Linked DNA regions of Homo sapiens: region 1 is linked to region 2. The links come from fine-mapping of genetic effects on gene expression. Tissue or cell type: coronary artery. Region 2 holds a variant in brackets; the other region holds the start of a gene. All regions are shown on one strand. Distances are from middle to middle.

The links. PIP is the estimated chance that this variant, and not a neighbour inherited with it, causes the effect.
Region 1: DCTN6 starts here. The variant in region 2 is fine-mapped to the expression of DCTN6 in coronary artery (GTEx, PIP above 0.99).

What each region holds. Positions count from the first base shown.
Region 1 is chr8:30,149,836-30,160,493 of GRCh38, forward strand. It overlaps DCTN6 (dynactin subunit 6), which reads left to right and starts at 6,534. Exons shown (of 7, transcript NM_006571.4): 1 at 6,534-6,571. The coding sequence starts at 6,549. It overlaps DCTN6-DT (DCTN6 divergent transcript), which reads right to left and starts at 6,825. Exons shown (of 1, transcript NR_186490.1): 1 at 5,994-6,825. It overlaps LOC124901927 (a long non-coding RNA gene), which reads right to left and starts at 8,275. Exons shown (of 2, transcript XR_007060880.1): 1 at 8,189-8,275; 2 at 7,337-8,047. RefSeq lists enhancers at 5,625-5,834, 5,659-6,641, 6,585-6,734 and a silencer at 6,795-6,904.
Region 2 is chr8:29,183,530-29,194,187 of GRCh38, forward strand. KIF13B (kinesin family member 13B) reads right to left here. Exons shown (of 40, transcript NM_015254.4): 4 at 7,468-7,528; 5 at 4,986-5,078; 6 at 2,763-2,943. Among named protein-coding and RNA genes, the nearest start is that of KIF13B, 74 kb to the right of the region's middle. The variant CAGG/C (reference allele first, on the strand shown) is at 4,408.

The sequences.
Region 1 (10,658 bases), 970 kb after region 2:
AAATCTACTGCGGCACTACCGGCTGTGGCAGGGGACAGACATTGTACGGGGTGAGGGAATGGCCTGAGCCACAAATGCCCTGGTTTGGAATGGGGCCGGGATGGGCCCCTCAGGGTGTTTCCCGAAATCGGGTTCCCATCTTTATCAAACTTAGAATGACACTGGTTAGCCCAATGTTTTCCTTTTTGCATTTTGGACATACTTCAGGCTCAGCAGTTTTCTTTTTTCCCCCATCTGGTGGCCTGACTTCCTGATTTTTTTCTACATTCTTTTTTAGTATGACCATGCTTCCCACAGTTCTCCAGGAAATGGAGTATTTCCTTTATCCACTCTCAGTCCTGCCATTGCCTGTGCCAACAAAGTAGCTTTATGCAGATTACCTCCGATACCATCACAGGCCTTGATATAATCAACTAAATGTGCTTTCCCTCTAATAGGTGGCAGAGCAGCCTGGCAATCGGGATTAGCATTGTCAAAAGCTAATAACCACAACACTTTATCTTGAGCAGCCAAATCTGCAATTACCTTTTTAAGAGACTCCTGTAACCGAGCTATAAAATCGTCATATGGTTCTTTTGGTCCCTGCTTTACAGCACTAAAGGAAGGTTATTGCTCTCCACCTGAAGTGATTTTTTTTCCCAGGCTCTAATGCACACTCCTCTAAGCTGTTCTATGGCATCATCCTGCATGACCACTTCTACATCTAAACCAGCCCAGCCGCTGACCCCCAAAAGTTAGTCTGCAGTTATATTAATTTGAGGTTGGGCCTGGGTGTTGCGAGCAGCCTGAATGGAAGCTTCATCTGCCCACCAAGTTTTAAATTGTAAGAAGTGAGTGGGAATTAGACCAGCTCGAGTAAGAGTGTTCCAGTCAGTAGGACTCATCCGACTGGAAACAGCAACATTCTTTAACAGTCCCATTACAAAAGGAGAACCTGGTCCATACTGATTAATAGCTTGTTTAAAATTCTTTGAGTAATTTAAAAGGAAAAGGCTCAAATGTAGCTGTAATAGTTCCCTGTTGATCAGGTGGGTGTATTCTAACAGGGAACTGCCAAGCCTCTATATCACCCTCTCGTCTAGCTTGCTGAATTCCTGCCTGAATAGAACTGAGAGTGGTCGCTGGAGGCGCTGCTCGAACAGTCACTGGGGCAACTACTTTTCACTCAGTGTCCTCCAGAAAAGAAAGATCTGGAGGGTGAGGCCACTCTTTTTCTTCAAAATAATAATGAGGGGGTGCAGAAGGGTAGGGATGAACCTCTCCCTCCTTTGCCACTTTAGCTTTAGCTGGCAAATAAACCTCCTCTGTAACCTCTTCTGTTATCTCGTTATACTCTCCTTCCTCATCATCAGTGTGAAAAGGTTCCAAAGTGGAACGAACCAGAGCCCACACTTGTCCCATTGTTACCCTGATGCTTCTGAGCTCCCCTTCTTACCCACCACGGGGATTGCTTTAAGAGTACTTGGGTGTCCTCCAGCTTAGCTCCACATTCTCCAACCATTGCTCTGATGACTCTTCGACCTGGGTTTGAGCCCCCACGTATGGGCGCCACTTGCCAAGACCAGCTCGGTCCTGGAGACCCTAACCCAGCGGCACTAGAGGAATTAAAGACAGACACATAGAAATATAGAGTGCGGAGTGGGAAATCAGGGGTCTCACAGCCTTCAGAGCTGAGAGCCTCGAACAGAGATTTATCCACATATTTACTGACAGCAAGCCAGTGATAAGCATTGTTTCTATAGATTAACTAAAGATATTCCTTACGGGAAATAAAGGGATGGGCTGAAATAAAGGAATGGGTTTGGCTAGTTATCTGCAGCAGGAGCATGTCCTTAAGGCACAGATCGCTCATGCTATTGTTTGTGGTTTAAGAACACCTTTAAGGGGTTTTCTGCTCTGGGTGGGCCAGGTGTTCCTTGCCCTCATTCTGGTAAACCCACAATCTTCCAGCGTGGGCGTCATGGCCATCACGAACATGTCACAGTGTTGCAGATATTTTGTTTATGGCCAGTTTTGGGGCCAGTTTATGACCAGATTTTGGGGGCCTATTCCCAACAGGGAAGAAGAGGGCTCCCTAAGGAACTAAATAAGATAACATCATATTAAACATATTGAATGAAACCAAATCCCACATCAAATATAATTTCTAGGTATAGAAGAGTTGAATTGCAGTTGATTAGTTAAGAAAAAAGTTGCTTTGTAGACATTGAATTAAGTATGTACGTGTGGGTTTGGACACAGTGACTCATGCCTGTAATCCCAGCACTTTGGGAGGCAGAGGCAGGTGGATCACCTGAGGTCAAGAGTTCAAGACCAGCCTGGCCAACATGGTGAAACTCTGTCTCTAATAAAAATCCAAAAAAAAAAAAAAAAAAAAAAAAAAAAAAGGCCAGGCATGGTGGCAGGTGCCTATAATTCCAGCTACTCAGAAGGCTGAGGCAGGAGAATCACCTGAATCCAGGAGGTGGAGGTTGCAGTGAGCCGAGATCACGCCATTGCACTCCAGCCTGGGCAACAAGAGTGAAACTCCATCTCAAAAAAAAAAAAAAAGTATGTGTGCATTTATTTATTTTATTATCGAGACAGGCTCTTGCTCTGTTGCCCAGGCTGGAGTGCACTGGCATGATCTTGGCTCATTGCAACTTTGACCTCCCGGACTCAAGTGATCCTCCCACCTCAGGCCCCAAGTAGCTGGGGCTACAGGCACGTGCCACCATGCCTCGCTAATTTTTGTATTTTTTGTAGAGACAGAGTTTTGCCATGTTGCCCAGGCTAGTCTCGAACTCCTAACTCAAACAATCCACCTGCCTCAGCTTCCCAAAGAACTGGGGTTACAGGCGTGAGCCACTGTGCCTGGCCTTAGCATTAATTAATTCCTACCTGTACGGTTTACATTCTGGAATCAGTACATTTTATTTTCAGGTTTCAAACAGTTCGTTGATCCCCAAAAAGCCTATAGGCCCTAGACACTGTACCTAATACTGATAAAATGATCCTTTATAAGTATGCCATAGAAGTCTTTCAAATTAATATAAATACACATTGCTTGAAAATGGATAGGTGTTTACATGGTTGGCAGTGACAAAACACTCTAAATTCATTCATATACTTATTCAACAAGTTTAGAGGAATATCAACCATGCACCAGGCACTGTGGTTGGTGCTGAGTAAAGAGTGGGAACAAAACTCACATGGCTCTAACTTCATGGAACTTAAGTCTTTGGAGGAAATGGTAAGATAAGTAAGTATAGCTGGTGATGAGTGCAATCCTTACCCCACAGAGAAAATAATTAGAATAGGAAGGGTAGCCTATTTTTGATTAGATGGTGCTATGGTCTGAATGTTTTTGTCCCTCCAGAATTCATATGTTGAAATAATACCTTCAAGGTTCTGTCCTCTCTGCCGAGCCTCACATCTGATATTTTATTGACTACTTGGCAATTAAGAGGTGGGACATTTGGGAGGTGATTAGGTGATGAGGGCTCTCATCAGACACAGAATGTCCAGCGCTTTGATCTTGGACTCCCCAGCCTCTAGGACTGTGAGCAATAAATGTCTTTGTTTATAAATAACAGTAGTCGCACTTATCCATGGTTTCATCTTCTGTGGTTTCAGTAACCTGTAGTCAACATCAGTCCAAAAATATTAAATAGAAAATTCCAGAAATAAACAATTTGTGAGTTTTAAATTGCACACCATTTTGAGTAGCATGATGAACTCTCGTACCATGCTGCTCTCTCTAGGCAAGAACATGAATCATCCCTTTGTATCCACACTGTTGGTACTACCTGCCCATTAAAGCTTTCTCAGTTATCAGATACATTGTTGCAGTATCAGAGTACTTGTGTTCAAGTCACTCTTATTTTACTTCATAATGGCCCCAAAGCACAAAAGTAGCGATGCAGGTGATTTGGATCTGCCAAAGAGAAACTGTAAAATGCTTTAAGTGAAAATGTGAAAACTTCTTGATTTCAAAAGGAAAGAAAAAAAACTATATGCTGAGGTTGCTAAGATCTATGGTAAGAATAAATCTTTTACCCATGAAACTGTTAATGAGGAAAAGGAAATGTGTGCATAGTATATAGAGGGTTCAGTATTATCTGTGGTTTCAGGCATCCACTAGAGGTCTTGGAATGTATCCCCCGAGGATAAGAAAGGACTACTATACCCAGTCTAAGGTATAACTGTCCCTCAGTATGCTTGGGGAACTGGTTCCTGGACACCCTGATGCCAAAATCTGCAGATGCTCAAGCCCCTGATATAAAATGGTGTAGTATTTGCATATAACTAACTGATGCATATCCTCCCATATCCTTTCAATCATCTTTATATTATTCAGAATATCTAATACAATTCCTACATATCACTTCATTCATGTGGCTTCAATGTAGCACTTGGCATGCAGCAAATTCAAGTTTTGCTTTTTGGAAACTTGCGTAATTTTTTCCCCCAAATTTTTGATCCAACGTGGGTTGCTGTCAACCAGTCACAGATGTCAAACCCACAGATACAAAGGGCCAACTGTATTTTGTTATAGCAGCCAGAAAGAACTAAGACAGTCAAGGAGGGTTTCCCTGAGTGTGATGGTCAGTTTTTTGTGTCAACTTGGTTAGGCTACATTCCCAAGTCATTAGTCAAACACTAATCTAGATGCTGCTGTAAAGGTATTTTTGTGGATGTGATTAAAGCCCATCATCAGTTCACTTTAAGGAAGAGAGATTATCCTAGCTAATCTGGGTGGGCCTGATTCAATCAGTTGAAGGCCATAAGAGCTGAGATGGGCTTCCCTGAAGAAATTCCTCCTGTGAACAACAGCCTCACCCCTTGCATGAGAGTTCCAGCTTAGTGTACAGATTTTGGACTTGCTTAGCTGGGGCTCCACAATCATGTAAGCCAATTCCTTACAATAAGCCTTTTGATATCCATCTACTACTAGTTCTGTTTCTCTGGTTGGAAACTGAGTATGTGACATCCGAGACATAAAGGGTCAGAAGGTGTTAGGGTGGGGGCAAGTGGAAGCGGTTGGGGGTGGAGAGTCAGCTTTGCTTTTTTGGAGAATGAGGGTGTGATCGAACACATAGAAAGAGAAAGAGAGAAGTAGGCAGGGGCTGGATGTAGCTCAGAGATAGGTTATGGAAAGCAGTTTGGATTTTAGATTTTAAGAGGAAGGGGAAATAACTGAATTTGGCTCTTATTTTTAATTTTTTTCCATTAAAAAAATACATTATAGAAAAAATATATAGAGACGGGATCATGCTGTGTTGACCAGGCTGGTCTCCAACTCCTGGCCTCAAGCGATCCTCCCATCTCGGCCCCCCAAAGTGCTGGGATTACCGGTTTGAGCCACGCGCCTGGCCTCAATTTGTCTTTTAAAGGATGATTTTGACTACAAGAGAACTACTTGGATCAGGGTTGGGGGTGGGAGATGAGGAGGTGTGATTTCAGAGGCCAAGTACAGAATGAGTGAACAACTGGGAGAGACACATCGGCTGAGATTAGAGAGATGGTCCGGTAGACAAAAGTGTAAGCATGAGACCCGAGGTAGGACAAGCAGAACTTGCAGATCTATTACAGATGTAGGGGTGAGGAGTGCCAGGGTGACTCTTGAGTGTCTGGCTTGAGCAGCTAGGCAAATGGTGTGGATCAAAAAAGCAGCAGGTTGCAGGGAGGACGGCAGTGTTAATCGAAAGTCATGTTCTGTAAGTTTTAGGTTCGATACGACTCTGAGCGGAGATGTCAATTAGTCAACCGAATGTCAGGTGTGAAGATCGGCACAGAGGGCAGAACCAGAGACATTCATTAGAGAGCAAACAGGTAGAGGGCACTTAACCTATAGGAAGGATGCACTCATATAGAGCGAGAAAAGGGCCAGAAGGAGCCCTAATGAGTAGAGAAAGACAGGCTGAAAAGGACATCGGCGAGGTCAGAGAAATACCTTTAGGGTGTAATTACGCCTACGCGAGTGGGTAAAATGAGGGCATAATGACGCGGACTGGATTGCAATAAACAGCTTTTATTCTTTTATCAGAGACACGATCTAGCTTTTTAGCCCAGGCCGGAGTGCGGTGGCATCCTCACAGCTCGCTGCAGCTTCACTGGGCTCAGGCGATCCTCTCGAGTAGCTGGGGTACAGGCGCAGGCCACCGTGACAGGCTTTTTTTTTTTTTTTTTTTTTTTTTTTTTGAAGAGAGGGTCTCACTATGTTACCCAGGCTAGTCTCGCAGTCTGGCACTCCTGGCCTCAAGCGATCCTCCTGCCTCGGCCTCTCGGCCTCCCAAAGTGCTGGCCTGTGCCCAGTCAATGGCTGTTCCAAATTAGGGTCTACCCATCTCTATGCAGGGCTAAAGTCCGCGGGCGGCCCCGCACCGCTACCAAAAGTACAGTCCTGTGCGCCCAGACGCGACGCAAACAAGAGTCGCAAGCTTCCGGGTCCCCGCCCCACCCCGGCTCCGCCCCTCCCCCAACCCTGCCAGGCTCTCCAATCGCATGTGGAATTATCGCTCTACCCAGGCGGTGGTGTCGATCTACGTTCCAATTGGGGCCGTACCATGGCGGAGAAGACTCAAAAGAGGTGGGTTTGCTGCTTGAGAAAAGCCTTTTCTCAGCTTTCCGTAGGGGTGGAACCTGTTCCTGGTCGCCAATGGTGGCGACTCAGAAGGTGTCTCATCCTGGGCATTCGGGCCGAAGGTACCTGAAGCCCAGACCTGGCGTCCACTGAGGGAGGGGGCGACGGAGTGGGGGCGGGGAGGGTTGAGAAGGGACGCGGAGTCGCTGCCTGGAAGGTTTTTGTTCCTGTCTGGCCGTCCCTCCCCACATGCGCCTGCGCAGAGGGGGTCTCCCGGCCGGGAGGGCGGGGGGGGCTGTGAGGGGAGGGTGACGTCAGCTTTTTCCTGGGGAAGGCCGGCTCCCTTCTCCCGCATAATCGGCGGTGCTTGGCGCCGCTGTACCCCACGGCTTGGCGCTGGATTCTCTGCTGCATGTTGCGAGACCCCCACGCCAGTGCTGGCCGCACCCCAGGCCCTTCCTGTCTCTGGAGGGTGGGGTGTGTAAAGGGATTTACGGTCGCTGTCAAAAGGGGGGCCGCGCCTGGACTTGAACTGTGACACACACACACACACATTATATAGATGCAAGGAGTACTTGCGCAGATTTGTTGCATAGATAAATTGCGTAATGGTGAAGTTGGCTTCTAGTGTACTTACCACCCAAATAGTGAACATTGTATCAGATGGGTAATTTTTCAGCCCTCAAACCCCTCCTACCCTCGCTGCTTTTAGAGTCCCCAGTGTCTGTTATTTCCCTCTTTATGTTTATGTGTACTCATTTTAGCTCCCACTTAAAAGTGAGAACATGTGCATTTGATTTTATTTCTGAGTTATCGCGTAAGGTAATGGCCTCCAGTTCCATCCATGTTGTTGCAAAAGACATGTTTCCTTTCTTTTTGATGGCTCTGTAGTATTCCATCGTATAGATACACCACATTTCCTTTATCCAGTCATCCGTTGATGAACACTTAGGTTGATTCCATACTTTGCTATTGTGAATAGTACAGTGATAGTCATAGGAGTGCAGTTGTCTTTTTAATACAATGGTTTCCTTTGAGTAGATCCTGGGTCGAATGGTAGTTCCGTTTGGATTGGTAGCTCTATATGGATTGCTGGGTCCAATGGTACTTGTGTTTAGTCCTTTGAGAAATCACCATACTATTTTCAATAGATGAACTAATTTATATTCCCACCAATAGTGTATAAGCTTAGAACTGTGACATTTTTTGCCAGGCGTGGAGTGGACAAGCTCCTTTGTAAACATGTGGGGACAGGAAGTTTGGCTTCTTCTCCGGTAGTCTTCATTGCTGGGGGCTGTTGGTGGCTGTTGGTGGCTGGGATGAGACAAGTGCATAAGTAAAGCCATTTCGAACAGCAGCAGTGTTGAGCTCCCTCTGCTGACTATTTTTGACAAAGAAAACTGACATTGTTTCTGGTGCCATAAATTAAAATGTAGATTTTTCTTCCATTTAAGTAGATACTCTGTAATCTTTTTTCATAAGCTAAAGAGGAACAGATGTACTATAAATATTATGTGCAGTAGATAGCAGTAGATAGTAGCTTACAGTGAAGATTAAGGTATTGTTGACTTGTTACTTTTACAGATCTGAGGTTAAGTCTTGCCCTCCCATCTGCCGGCTCACCTCTCTGCTCCCACCACTCCGAGATACAAGGGGTCCTTGCAGAGATATCGGGACCACGTTTTAGTTGGCCTAGTGGCCTGCCCCACTGAGAAGTGTGCTGATTGTGACGCAAGCATTACCTGGGATCTCTCCCTTGGGCGTAAAACTGAAGGCAGGGGGCATTTGTGAGTCTCTCCTACTCTCAGTTGCCCAGGACAAGTTCAATGTTAGATAATGCTCTTTTCATAATGAGAAGGAAGCTGAGGAAATGGAAAATTGCAATGAGAAATAAGGTCTAAAACAAGAGACATTTTATAGAGGCTAATGTATTTGACCAGGGCTTAATAAAATTGCATATTTTAACAAAAAAAACCCACTTTAAATGAAAAGTATCAGAGAAATGACATTTACAGCTGGTGATACATTCAAGGACAGTGTCGCTCATTTATCATGGAAAAACATCTGGAGTGACAGGATGTTTCCAGAAAACTTTCAACTAGAAGACAGATGACTGATTTCAGGACAGTGATGCCCCAGGAATGAACTCTGCTCCAAGAAATTTCTAGTCTCTGAATTTCAGTTTTTTCTTCTATAATATGAGAGGGTTAGACCAGGTGATTTTCTTCTAATCTTACTAAAATCTTTCTTCTTCAATACAGCAGGAGGGCTACATATTTTCTGTTATTTCAGTAGATTGACTTTTTTTTTTTTTTTTTTTGTGAGACAGAGTCGCTCAGGCTGGAGTGCAGTGAAAGCTTTGCACCATGCCTGGTTCCTTTTTTTTTTTTTTTTTTTTTGAGACGGAGTCTCACTCTGTTGCCTAGGCTGGAGTGCAGTGGCACAATCTCTGCTCACTGCAACCTTTGCCTCCTGGGTTCAAGCGATCATCCTGCCTCAGTCTCCAGAGTAGCTGGGACTACAGGCACCCACCACCACACCTGGCTAATTTTTGTATTTTTAGTAGAGATGGGGTTTCACCATGTTGGCCAGGCTGATCTCGAACTCCTGACCTCAAGGAATCTGCCCACCTCGGCCTCCCAAAGTGGTGGGATTACAGGCGTGAGCCACTGCACCTGGCCCAGATTGACTCTTGACAGGCTGTATCACCCAGAAGGACCATTGGTAGGATTTCATTGACTTACGCCTTATAAAAAGTCAGAGCCTAACAAAATGATGGAAACAGCTGGAGCTGTGTCTATTCTCAAAACCATTTCTTGAAGATAGACTCAGGGATTATTAGTTTTTTCTATTTGATACATGTTTTTTTGTTTACTTAGAGCTTTAAAAATTCATGGCGGTGTGAAGGTTTGTCCACCCTAATTTGTGGAAGAAAAATTTGTGTATGTCTTCTTTTTTTTTTAGTTCATCACACCAGTAGGGAAGTTGGTACAATCTTAAAAATAGTTTTCATCTTACTTTGCATGTATATTAGGGAATACTTGGGGGGAAGATTCTGGCATAGAAATGATGGAGAGACATGTTAATGAAAGAATCTTTACCCTTCTGACTCTCAGAGCTGTATTTTTAGAACTCTCTTATGAGCTTCAGAATCTGTATTTTCAGTCGCTTATTGGATATATCTGGTGACCATTCCATAGATACCTCAGACTGAGTTTATCTAAAATTTAGCCAAATGACTTTTTTCTCTAAAATCTACCCCTCCTCCCATAGGCTATTCTCAGATGGTGCCATTAGTTTTCCAGATCAGAAACCTAGAGGCTTTGACCTTGCTCCCTAGCTCCAGACTTTTGATTAGTTTTCTTTTTTTTTTTTTTTTGAGACAGGGTTTCACTCCATCACCCAGGCTGGAGTGCAGTGGTGCAATCTCAGCTCACTGCAACCTCTACCTCCTGGGCTCAAGCGATCCTCCCGCCTCAGCCCCCCAAGTAGCTGGGAGTACAGGTGTAAGCCACCATACCCAGCTAATTTTTGTATTTTTTGTAGAGATGGGGTTTTACCATGTGACCCAGGCTGGTTTTGGTTGTTTTTCTGGCATAAGTGAAGCAGAGTCACAGCAGCTGATTTTGAGCCCTGGAATTTGAGCTTCCCTCTCCATCAGGAATCATCCCTTCCCAGGAAGGGGACAAGATGGCACCAGTTTCCTTATTTCACTCCATGCCCCTCACACCCATCCTTCTGTAGTTGATATGGTTTGGCTGTGTCCCCACCCAAATCTCATTTTGAAATGTAGTTCCCATAATTCCCACATGTTGTGGGAGGGACCAGGTGGAGATAATTGAATCATGGGAGCCGTTTCCCCCATCCTGTTCTCATGATAGTGAATTAGTTCTCATGAGATCTAATGGTTTTATAAGGGGCTTCCCCCTTCACTGGGCACTCATTCTCTTCCCTGCCACCATGTGAAGAAGGACGTGTTTGCTTCCCCTTCTGCCATGGTTGTAGGTTTCCTGAGGCCTCCCCAAACATGCTGAACTGTGAGTCAATTAAACCTCTTTCCTTTATAAATTACCCAGTCTCAGGTATGTCTCTA
Region 2 (10,658 bases):
TTATAATCTGCTCTTGACCACCTCTTAGTCAGCTTCTCCTTATCCTCACCTTAGGCATGAATTAATTTACTTTTATCCATTTGTATTATAATAAACTTTGGGCTCTAGAACAGCAAGAATAATGTCTAATTATTTTGGGAGTCTGCAGTTCCTAGCACAAGTCCTGGCACATAAGAATCACTAAGTGAATGAACAGACTTCACTAACAAAGTGAAGATTAGAGAGATTAAGATGACAGTGAGGACTCCAAATGTGTTAGCTTCCGTCATTTGGAGAGCGAGTGCTAGTAACTAAGAAGGCAGGAGAGGAAGGGAAGAAATGTAGAACACATATAATGAATGACTAGCACAGAAGCTGAACCACATTCAATCACTAACACCCATAATAAAGACAGCAAGAAGAGGATAGTTCTAGAATAACCCTTCATATAAACAGTAAAATCAGGGGATAAGGAAATGACTCTTAAATCTAAAATCTATAGTACCCTAGGATCAACCATTAAAAATGTCACTTATTACCATGTAACTGGATAAAGTAGATATAGAATATTTGATTTACTTCTCGCCCAGGATATAGTCTATTATTGACTTTTTTCCTTTCATATTTCCTTTTTCTTAATGTATCCTCTATTATCTCCTGAGTAAAACAACATAATTACATTACTATATACTAGATGCTGAATTAATATAATTAGTACGTGAATAAAAAATGAAGTTTTCTCAAATGGTCTTTGACTGAAATGAGATCACCTTTAGAGATTTTAATCCATTTACTTTGAATCTTCAGAAACTAAAAAAAAAAAATTTCCAAGAAATTTTCACTGGGGAGATAGCAGCAGCTACCACTTATTGAGCACTTACTGTATGCCAGCAAATGTTCTAAGACCTCAGGTGTATCATCCCAGTCTATCTTCACAACAGCCCTCTGAGATAATTGTATCCTATCATTTCCCTCTTCAAGTTCCCTCTAGGCTGACAAGTTAGGCCTGGAAAGCTTAAGAAACTTGTTCAATAGGTAACAAGTAGAGGACCTAGATCCTGAGCTATGCAAATCCGAAGCTCTTCAGAATTCACTGTTAATTACTGTAAGTAATTACCGTAAGTAAGCTGTTAATTACTAACCTATACCCAAGACAAACATAGGAGAAATTACTAAAGACTGTACATGTGCAGATAAGTTAAAAAGATGCCATACAAGCACTCTGGATTAAGCAGAAGAATGAACAGGTATGAAGTCAGTCAGCTAAGAATTTCTGGAAAGAGTAGGTCTGGGCTGGATCTCAGAAAAGTGATGATCTTTGCGAGGTCAAAGTCCAAGAAAAAGTGTTCAAGGCAGAACAAAGAAAAAAATATACAGGGATATAATATTAAGTAGGATGTGGGTACCTGGACCGTAAGGTACTCTCTAGCCTCTTTGTTTTGGAACATTTTTTATTTTTAATTTCTTTTGAGACAGGATGAATCTCTCATCCTGTCACCCAGGCTGGGGTGCAGTGGTACAATCTTGGCTCACTGAAGCCTCAAACTCCTGGGCTCAAGCGATCCTCCCATCTTGGCCTCCTTTTGTTCCATGTTGACTTCTGTGCATCCTACTCTCCGACCACACTGAACTGCTGGATCATTCTCCAAAGGTGATTAATTTACACCTTCAAGGTGTGGGAGAGGTTGTTCCCTACACCTGAGTAGTTCTCACCCAACTTCCCAGTGGACCAACTTCCCACTCCGCACAAATGTTATCAAGCAAGTACACTCTGGAATCTTCCCTTCTCCTAGGGGCAAGATCAGTCATTGTCCCTTTGCTCTCTAATTTGTAGGAGCCTCCTTCACAAGCTAAAAGCAGATAGCGTTGTATTTTAATTATTTGTTTACAAAACTCTCATTCTGTCCACACTGTGAGTTCTTGCATAGTGCCTGGCATATAATGATCACTCAATAAATGTTTGTTAAGTAAAGTTTGTACAGAAGCACTGAGCATCAATTCAATCTCCCTGTTAGAATCCTAAAGATTATCATCTTGGTCAAGGAAAACTGACAACAGAGAGGAGCTGAGGGTTCTGTTTGCTCTTGACTGAGAGTCACTATGACTCACTGCCTCTAAGATCCTCTTTTCCTTGATCATCTTCCTCATCCAGCAAAACTAAATGTCCTCCTGTTGTCCTGCAAACTTTCTGTAGGCCTCAGCTTATTTGGCTCTTTGACCTTCCTAATGCTGTTTTTACATCAACAAGCCACAGGCTGTGGTCATTATCTCCATCTTTCTCCACTGTTGCGCTTCCTTAAAATCTGAACTCGAAAAACTCTGTGGAATGAACAGATTTCTAGATACCGTGCACTTTCCTCACTCAGTTACAGCTGTAGAGTCAAACCAGCGTTTGTGAAGGCCTCCTAAGACTTCCAATCCAATTCTCTTTACAAGTCTGTGCCATGAAATCATGGGCACTTGTTTTTGTTCCTGAGAATCTTTAAAAACTCACTGTCCTAAAGACTAGGTTTCATCTCTCTGATTATGCCTCTCCCTCACCTCACAGCCCACAAAGAGCTGAATTCCACCTGAAATTTCTTGGGTTTAAAAACAAACAAACAAACAAACAAACTCTTGAGCCCAGGAGTTCAAGGCTGAAGTAAGCTATGATTGTGCCACTGCACTGAAGCCTATGTGACAGAGCGAGACCCTCTGAAAAAATTAAAAAGATTTGCACTTAAGCCAATTTAAGTCTGTTTCAGTTCACAATGCTGAAACACTAAAGTCTCAAAGTCCTTTACCCTTTGGGATCAAGAAGGTCTCGAACTTTTTCATTATAAATTTCCATGTAGGACACTTCTACTTTAAAACTCTGTTCTTCATTTTCCTCTTTCTGAGTTCGTTCAAAGAGTCCACTGCAAAGTCTTGGGATTAATCCAGGTTGGTCAGCTGTGCCCATCATGGTATAAGATTTTCCAGAGCCTAAAAAAATGGAAATCAGAGTTACTATTGTCTCTTTGAGACGTTAAATACATAACCCTCTTTCCGTTGCTCATAATAAACACTTGGCAAAACGCCAAAATGCAGTGAGAAATACACCCAAATATAATGAGAATAATAAGTACAGAAGCTTTTTTACTGCACATGTGAAAGTGAAAAGCAAATGTCCTTTAGAAAGAAAAATAGGCTGGGTGCGGTGGCTCACGCCTGTAATTCCCAGCACTTTGGGAGGCTGAGGTGGGCAGATTGCCTGAGCTCAGGAGTTCGAGATCAGCCTGGGCAACAAGGTGAAACCCCGTCTCTACTAAAATACAAAAAAAAAAGAAAAATTAGCCATGCGTGACGGCACGTGCTTGTAGTCCCAGCTACTCGGGAGGCTGAGGCAGGAGAATTGCTTGAACCCGGGAGGCGGAGGTTGCAGTGAGCCGAGATTGCGCCACTGCACTCTAGCCTGGGCTACAGAGCAACACTCCATCTCCAAAAAAAAAAAAAAAAAGAAAAATAAACTTATTTAATCATCCTCATACTTTAAGAAAATACCTAAAACAAGTGAGAAATAGTGAGGTCTAAAAGTTTTCCGAAATAAGCTGAAAGAGCCATATAATTAATACTATAGTGCCTGCTCCCAACCAGTGATCACAGCACAAAAAATATAGGTTCTCCCTGTGGACCCCAGAGCAAATTAACTCACTACCCTTTCACTATAGTGTGGAAACTAAAGAATAATCTTTTTTCTTATATAAAATTATTTTCTCGGCTGAATGCGGTGGCTCACGCCTGTAATCTCAGCACTTTGGGAGGCCAAGGTGGGTGGATCACCTGAGGTCAGGAGTTTGAGACCAGCCTGGCCAACATGGTGAAACCCCTTCTCTCCTAAAAATACCAAAAAAATTAACCAGGCACGGTGGCAGGCACCTGTAGTGCCAGCTACTCCGGAGGCTGAGGCAGAAGAATCGCTTGAACCTGGGAGGCAGAGGCTGCAATGAGCAGAGATTGTGCCACTGCACTCCAGCCTGGACAACAGAGCAAGACTCCGTCTCAAAATAAAAGATTTTCTCCGTTGTAAAAGAAATATATATTAAATAAAATTTAGAAAACACAGGAAAATAGAAAGAAAAAACTTAAATTACCATAGTCCTACTGCCCGAAAACCAGTAACTACTGACACTTAAGTATAATTCCTTCTGTTTTTAGTAGCAGTGTTTTTGCAAATATGCTTTTAACCTACAAGTTGCTGCTTTTGTCATGCAACATTTTATTGTTATCATAATACCTAAAGCTAATGTGCCACATTTCCTAAGTACCAGGACTTCTGTAAAAAGTTTGCACATGGGAACTCGTTATGACAACCCTACAAGAAGGTCTATGATCATCAGCCTTTCCAGATAAGGACGCTGAAGGGCAGAGAGGTTAAGTAACTGCCCAGGTCTCTCTGCTGGCCAGCTG[CAGG/C]AGCAGGACTGGAGCTGTCGCCGCCTGGCCCCAGCTTTCTGCCCTTTCAACACGACACATGAGGCTTCTTGAAAATATCCAACACATTCTTCTGTGAGAACATTTCTAGTTGGACAAGCTGTATACTTTACTCTTACAAAAGTAACTAGTTCACTTCAAATTTTCTTTTCTTGACCACAGAGACTCAAAAGCCAAAAAGCTTCTTAGTTATTACTGGTGAGATATTAACAAGTATGTTCTTTTTGGTATTTTATCTGTTATGGTTCTGAAAGCCTTAAAAAAGCATGATCTATAGGCATGGCTAGTAATGTGTTCAACAGTCATAGCTCTGTATTTTTTCGAAAAACAATGCTGCCAGTGCCTTGTGAGAAAAATCAGTAAAGATAAAAGATCCCAATCCTAATTTTATTACACTCATTTTAAAATAATGTTACTGACTACTTTCAACATCTACAGTACTTTCTGAAAGCAAAAACAACAAGGAATAAATCAGCAATGTTACTCAGTAAAATAAACATGGTTCTATTTTCTTTCATTGATGGTTGTTTATGTGATTTCATGTTATTTAACATTACCAGTCTGTCCATAGGCAAAGATACATGCATTGTAGCCATCAAAAGCATTCTGCAGGATATTCTCTCCAAGGCACTTGAAAACAATATCTTGACCTGAGAGAGAGAGAATAAGAGAAAAGATATTTTAAGCCAAAACTACATATGAACAATTCACAAAACAAAAACAAAAATCTCAAAAATGTATAATCTGCTTATTTATCTCCAAACAAGATTTTTAAATTTGACGAATGCTCCCAAAGGCTTATGCCTTCCAGGTTATTTCTAGTTAGCACATGAGGGAAAATCAGCTCCCTGTAATACATGCTTGAATAAATAAACACGACTAAGAATCCCCTGCAATGCAGAGCCAATGAGCTGCTCACTTTATAATCAATGATTATAAATATCTGAAATTTATACTTGGGACCCAGGTGTACCTGGACTTAACTATTTACCACTCAGGCAATGCTTTTATTCGGTGGGTACCAGAGTTTAGAATAATCATATATACCAACCCCCTCTCCTTTCCCTCAGTGACAATTTCTAATTACAGGATCTACAACACATACCAGTTAGGACAGGGAGTCAGAGCCTGGAAATTTCCCTCAGCTTTCAATCATGGACATAAAGAACAGAGTCAAATTCTCCCCGACAGGCCAAATGAGATATGTCACTAGTCAGTAATTGAATGTGAATCTGACAAGTCACCCTACCTCACTTAGTCTCAATACCACATGGAAGAACTGGATGCTTTTATGTTATGGCAAGGGTATTCCATTATGTCTCATTTCCTTTTTTTTTTTTTTTAATACCAGTTAACTTATACTTCTGATATTGGGCCACCTAGACCAAATGAATCTTAACTTCAAAACAGCCATAATATTCATCTTTCTCATAACAGAAGCCAAAACAATATGATGCTTAATATTTAAAAGAGATTGTTTAAAAACAGGCGACAAAAGCAGTAAGGAATAAAGGCAATCAAAGGCTGTCACTGCAGTCCTAAACTTGTGGTGAGATGGGGCTTGAGACAGTCATCATTTAGAAGAATAATAGAGTAACAGACTTCCAGAGCCAAAAGAAAATTTAGAGAGAATATGGCATATTCCTTTCCATCAAAAAGAGAAAACTGAAGCTCTGACAGGTGAGGTGATTTACTGAAAGGCGCAGGGGCGGTAAGAAGCAGGGCTGGGCCTGCAGCCTAGGGTTCCTTTTCTCCTTGGCCGGTGCTCCCCTTCTTTCACTATGCCATCCTGTCTCTCCAGCCCAGTCTCAGGCCTCCAGGGCAATCTAAGGGGCGACCTTGTGCTCCCGGCCTCATGTAAGAGCTGGGGCGTGTGAATGTGGAATAGCCACTGTGTGTACTAGTGATGTAATTTCATCAACGTATACCAAGAATGGCACACAGTGAATCTCCCATTTTCCAATCAACATTAAAAACTCTAATAGCAAACACGGGAGGGTGTTGTCTGTACTTTCTACAGTTATGCAAAAGAATCCTATGGTACTCATATATATCCTATGGTAATTATAGAGATGTAGGTTACCATCCGCAGTTCCTGGCTCATTAACCCTTGTTGCAGTCTTTTACATGTTGGGGCATTTTAGCCTCAGGAAACTATCTGATCTCCTGCCCTCCTTTTACCTGCCGGAGGCAAGACTCTCATCTGATTGTGGGTCAAGAGCTTCTCATTCCACAAGGTCTTGCCTCATATCCTAAAGGAAGGAATGCTACACAGAATGGCCAAGAAAAGTCTGAACAGACAGGACGTGCTGTGTTCAGTCATGCACTTTTTGTCAAATCACATTTCTAATCGGTTGACAATCATGCCTATATAAGGAAGCCTCCATAAAAACCTAAAAGGACTGGGTTCAGAGAGCTTCTGGATTGCTAAACACACAGGGCCCAATAGGAAGGTAAGAACTCATCCACACGCCGGGAGGGCGCCGCGCCACCTCCATGAGGACAGAAGCTCCTGCGCTTGGGACCCTTCCAGATCTCACCCTCTGTATCTCTTCATCTGGCTGTTTACCTGTCTCCTTTAAAGAAAATCCCTCGTAATAAACCCCTAAACACAAGTGTTTCCCTGAGTTCTGTGAGCCGCTCTAGGAAATTAATCAAACCCAAAGAGGAGGTTGTGGGAACCCTAATTGGAAGCCAGTAGGTCAGAAGTTCTAGAGGCCTGGACCTGCGCTGGTGGGAAGGAGGGAGCGGTCTTGTGGGACTGAGCCCTCAGTCTGTGGATCTGACGCTGTCCCCAGGTAGAGAGCATCGGAACTGAGTTAGAGGACACCCAGCCAGTGTCTGCCGCTTGGGGTGCAGGGAAAACTCCCCCAACATTTGGTCACATTAAGTCATCTTCTGTGTTGATGACTGTTATTGTGGTGTGACAGCAGAGGAAACACACAGTTTGGGGGGTTTGCCAAGCAATCGTGTAAGGGAAAAAATACTGAACCCCTCTTCTACACCATCAGTAGTTGACAGGATGCTGGATTCTATTACCTGCATACTTTTCTTTGACAGATTCATCCATAGACCAGAAACAATGATCATAAGCAAACACCTGTTGAAAATGAACATAAGTGTGTGTTAAGAAAACCTCAACATTACTTATAAACCATAACTGATAGAACTGTTCATAATAGTGAAATAAAACAACTTACTGTCATACAATGGGAATTAATTATGTATGTAGAGGCTTACAATGAGAACTAAACATGCTATAGGTGATATGACTCTATATTTTACATGGAAAACTATTCACAAAATGTGTAATAAAATGGCTATTGCACACACACATGCACCTACAGTCACACACACAGAATTACATCTATAGTTTATTTTTTTGCAGCGAAATTAGTGATCTGTTTCATGTTTTTATATTTTTTCAATATTTTTATTTTTGTAGTCAAAGAAAAAGATATTTTTTAAATAACATTTAAAGATGCTCACTATAGCATGTCCAAAATAGCTTAAAATAGCAGAATGTTTACATAAATTATGACATGCCCATGTGCAAGTATAGATTTGAGGGTATAGAAGACTTACTAATTTAAAAAAAGTTTATGTTAATGAAAAAGTTATAAAAGTCTAGAGTATGATTCCATATTTGTACCAAAAAACTATATGCATAAAAAGCAGGAACAATCTGTATTAAAATGCTACTTGGTGGGATCTTACAGATGATCTGTTTTGATCTTTCACCTTATCACCACTTTCTAGAATATCACATAGTTCTTTTGCACTGTTTGAAAAGCTTCTTTTTCACTAATTATTTCTTTTTAAACCAACTAAGCAAAGGCAAATTTTTCACTGACTGCATCTTTCACTTTTTCGATTTCTGTCAGTTTGAAATCTACTTACTTGTGTTTTGTGATTTTTATCTCCGTAAAGATTTTAAGTGCAATTGTTTTAAAATGTATCTCGGTTCACATTTTGTCACATTCTCCCACTTTGGGAGTCTGTTGCTATGCTTCCTGATGATGGTTTGCATGTTAGTTTGCAGGTACATCTTAGCAGGGAGTGTTTATTTTATGGTTTACATGATTGCTTATTTTTTCCTCTCCTGATGGCCACCTTTCCATGACTAGTTTATGCTGTCATTTCCATTACTGAAGCCCAGATTTTGGGTCTTCTCAAGGCCCAATGTCTCCATCCCTTCCTATTAACACAGACATTAGCTCAATGTTGGTGGCCAAAAACTGACTGTAAGCTTTCACTCACAGAGAAGGCTCGCCCAAATCAGTTTTCACATGGTGAGCCTGGCTCCAGTCCCCAACCATACACCAGTGCCCCCATTAGTCGGCAAGAGTTGAACTTCCAATCACCTCCAGGCACCTGGTCTGATTCCAAAGCCCTGGAAATATGTCACTTCAGCCCTCGCTTACTGCTGGTCCTTGAAGTTATATATGTTGTTGTTGTGTTTTTCTAGTTTTGTGTAGAGATGGGGTCTCACTATGTTGCCCAGGCTGGTCTCAGACTCCTGGCCTCAAGCAATCCTCTAGCCTCAGCCTCCCAAGTACTGAGATTACAGCTGTGAGCCACCATGCCCAGTCTAAATTTGTTTTTGAGTTTGATTACATGATTCGCACATTCTAAAATATTTTATCTATCTCTGCTATAATTTTGATGTTGGCAGGAGAATGTTTCTGTGTAAACTCACAAGATTATCTGGACCAGAAGTCTAAAAGGTTAATTTTTTTAAGAAAGAAAATTAGGTTAAGATGGTAAATTAATAATGCATACTGATATCCATCACCCAGCTAAAATTAACTCAAAACGACAGGCGATGGGGGAAGTGGGGAAATTGCCAAAAAGGAAGAGAAGGGGGAAAAAAGAACAAGGTTTTGAAACCAAGAGTGCTTGCTTGTGCCTGGATCAGAATTGAGAAACTCCTGAAAAAATAGTTCCAATGAAACTGATGGGGGTAAGGGTGGGGGCCTGCAGGGAGAGCACAGGCTGCAAAGCCAGTGAGCAGTTCTGGGAGGTACCAGAAGGGCAACTAAAGGGGGAGGCAGATAACCCTGGCAGCAACCGAGAGGACGACTGGCTCAGCACCTCTGGACAGGTGAGGATCGGCACACCTGCATCTCTGTGTGAAACAGCAGGCAGGGGAGACACCTGTTCCCTGGATGGGGCTGTGAGAAGGAAGCGAGGCCAGGAAGTGAAAGCAGACCCCCAGCGGCTGACAGCCCCTGAGAGCCCTTGGGCCCAGAAGACATCATCCAGCTGCAGTGTTGTGTTACACACTGCTCACCCTCCATGTTTTTCCAAAGCTAAAACGTATATCTATCAGCAGTGGTGGCTCACTAAGCCATTTTCAAACACAGAGGAGCAAAAGGAGGAGGATGGAAGATGGCCCCAAAGGACTGGGCATCAAACTGGGGGGAGCTGCCTTGCAAACTCCAGGTGTCACCCATAGTGAGAATCATTACAGCAGAGTAGGAGTAAATAAAATGTGGAGCTCAAACGAAGTTTCTCCTGTTCTAGCTTTCCACGCTTATCTCCATAATTTTATTTAATTAATTCTGTTCTTAATAAGGCTAAGTAAAAACCATCCTGATTCTTGTAAGCTTAGTTCTCACTTCAAAAGCCCTATCACATGTGTATACAGTCATCCCTCAGTATCCTGAGTGGGACTGCTTCCAGGACCTCCCATGAATACCAAAATCCACAGATGTGCAAGTCCTTATATAAAATGGTGTAGTATTTGCATAAAACCCACACATATCCTCCCATATACTTCAAATCATCTCTTGATTACTTAAAACACCTAAGACAAAGTAGATGCTATGTAAATAGTTGTCATACTGTACTGCTTTTTACATTTTTACTTTTTTTTGAGACGGAGTCTCGCTCTGTCGCCCAGGCTGGAGTGCAGTGGCGTGATCTCAGCTCACCGCAAGCTCCACCTCCCAGGTTCACGCCATTCTCCTGCCTCAGCCTCCTGAGTAGCTGGGACTACAGGCGCCCGCTACCACGCCTGGCTTTTTTTTTTTTTTTTGTATTTTTAGTAGAGACAGGGTTTCACTGTGTTAGCCAGGATGGTCTCAATCTCCTGGCCTCATGATCCGCTGGCCTCCGCCTCCCAAAGTGCTGGGATTACAGGCATGAGCCACCGCGCCCGGCCCTAAATTTTTACTTTTATTGTTGTATTATTTTTCATAGTTTTTTAAAAACTATTTTCAATCTGT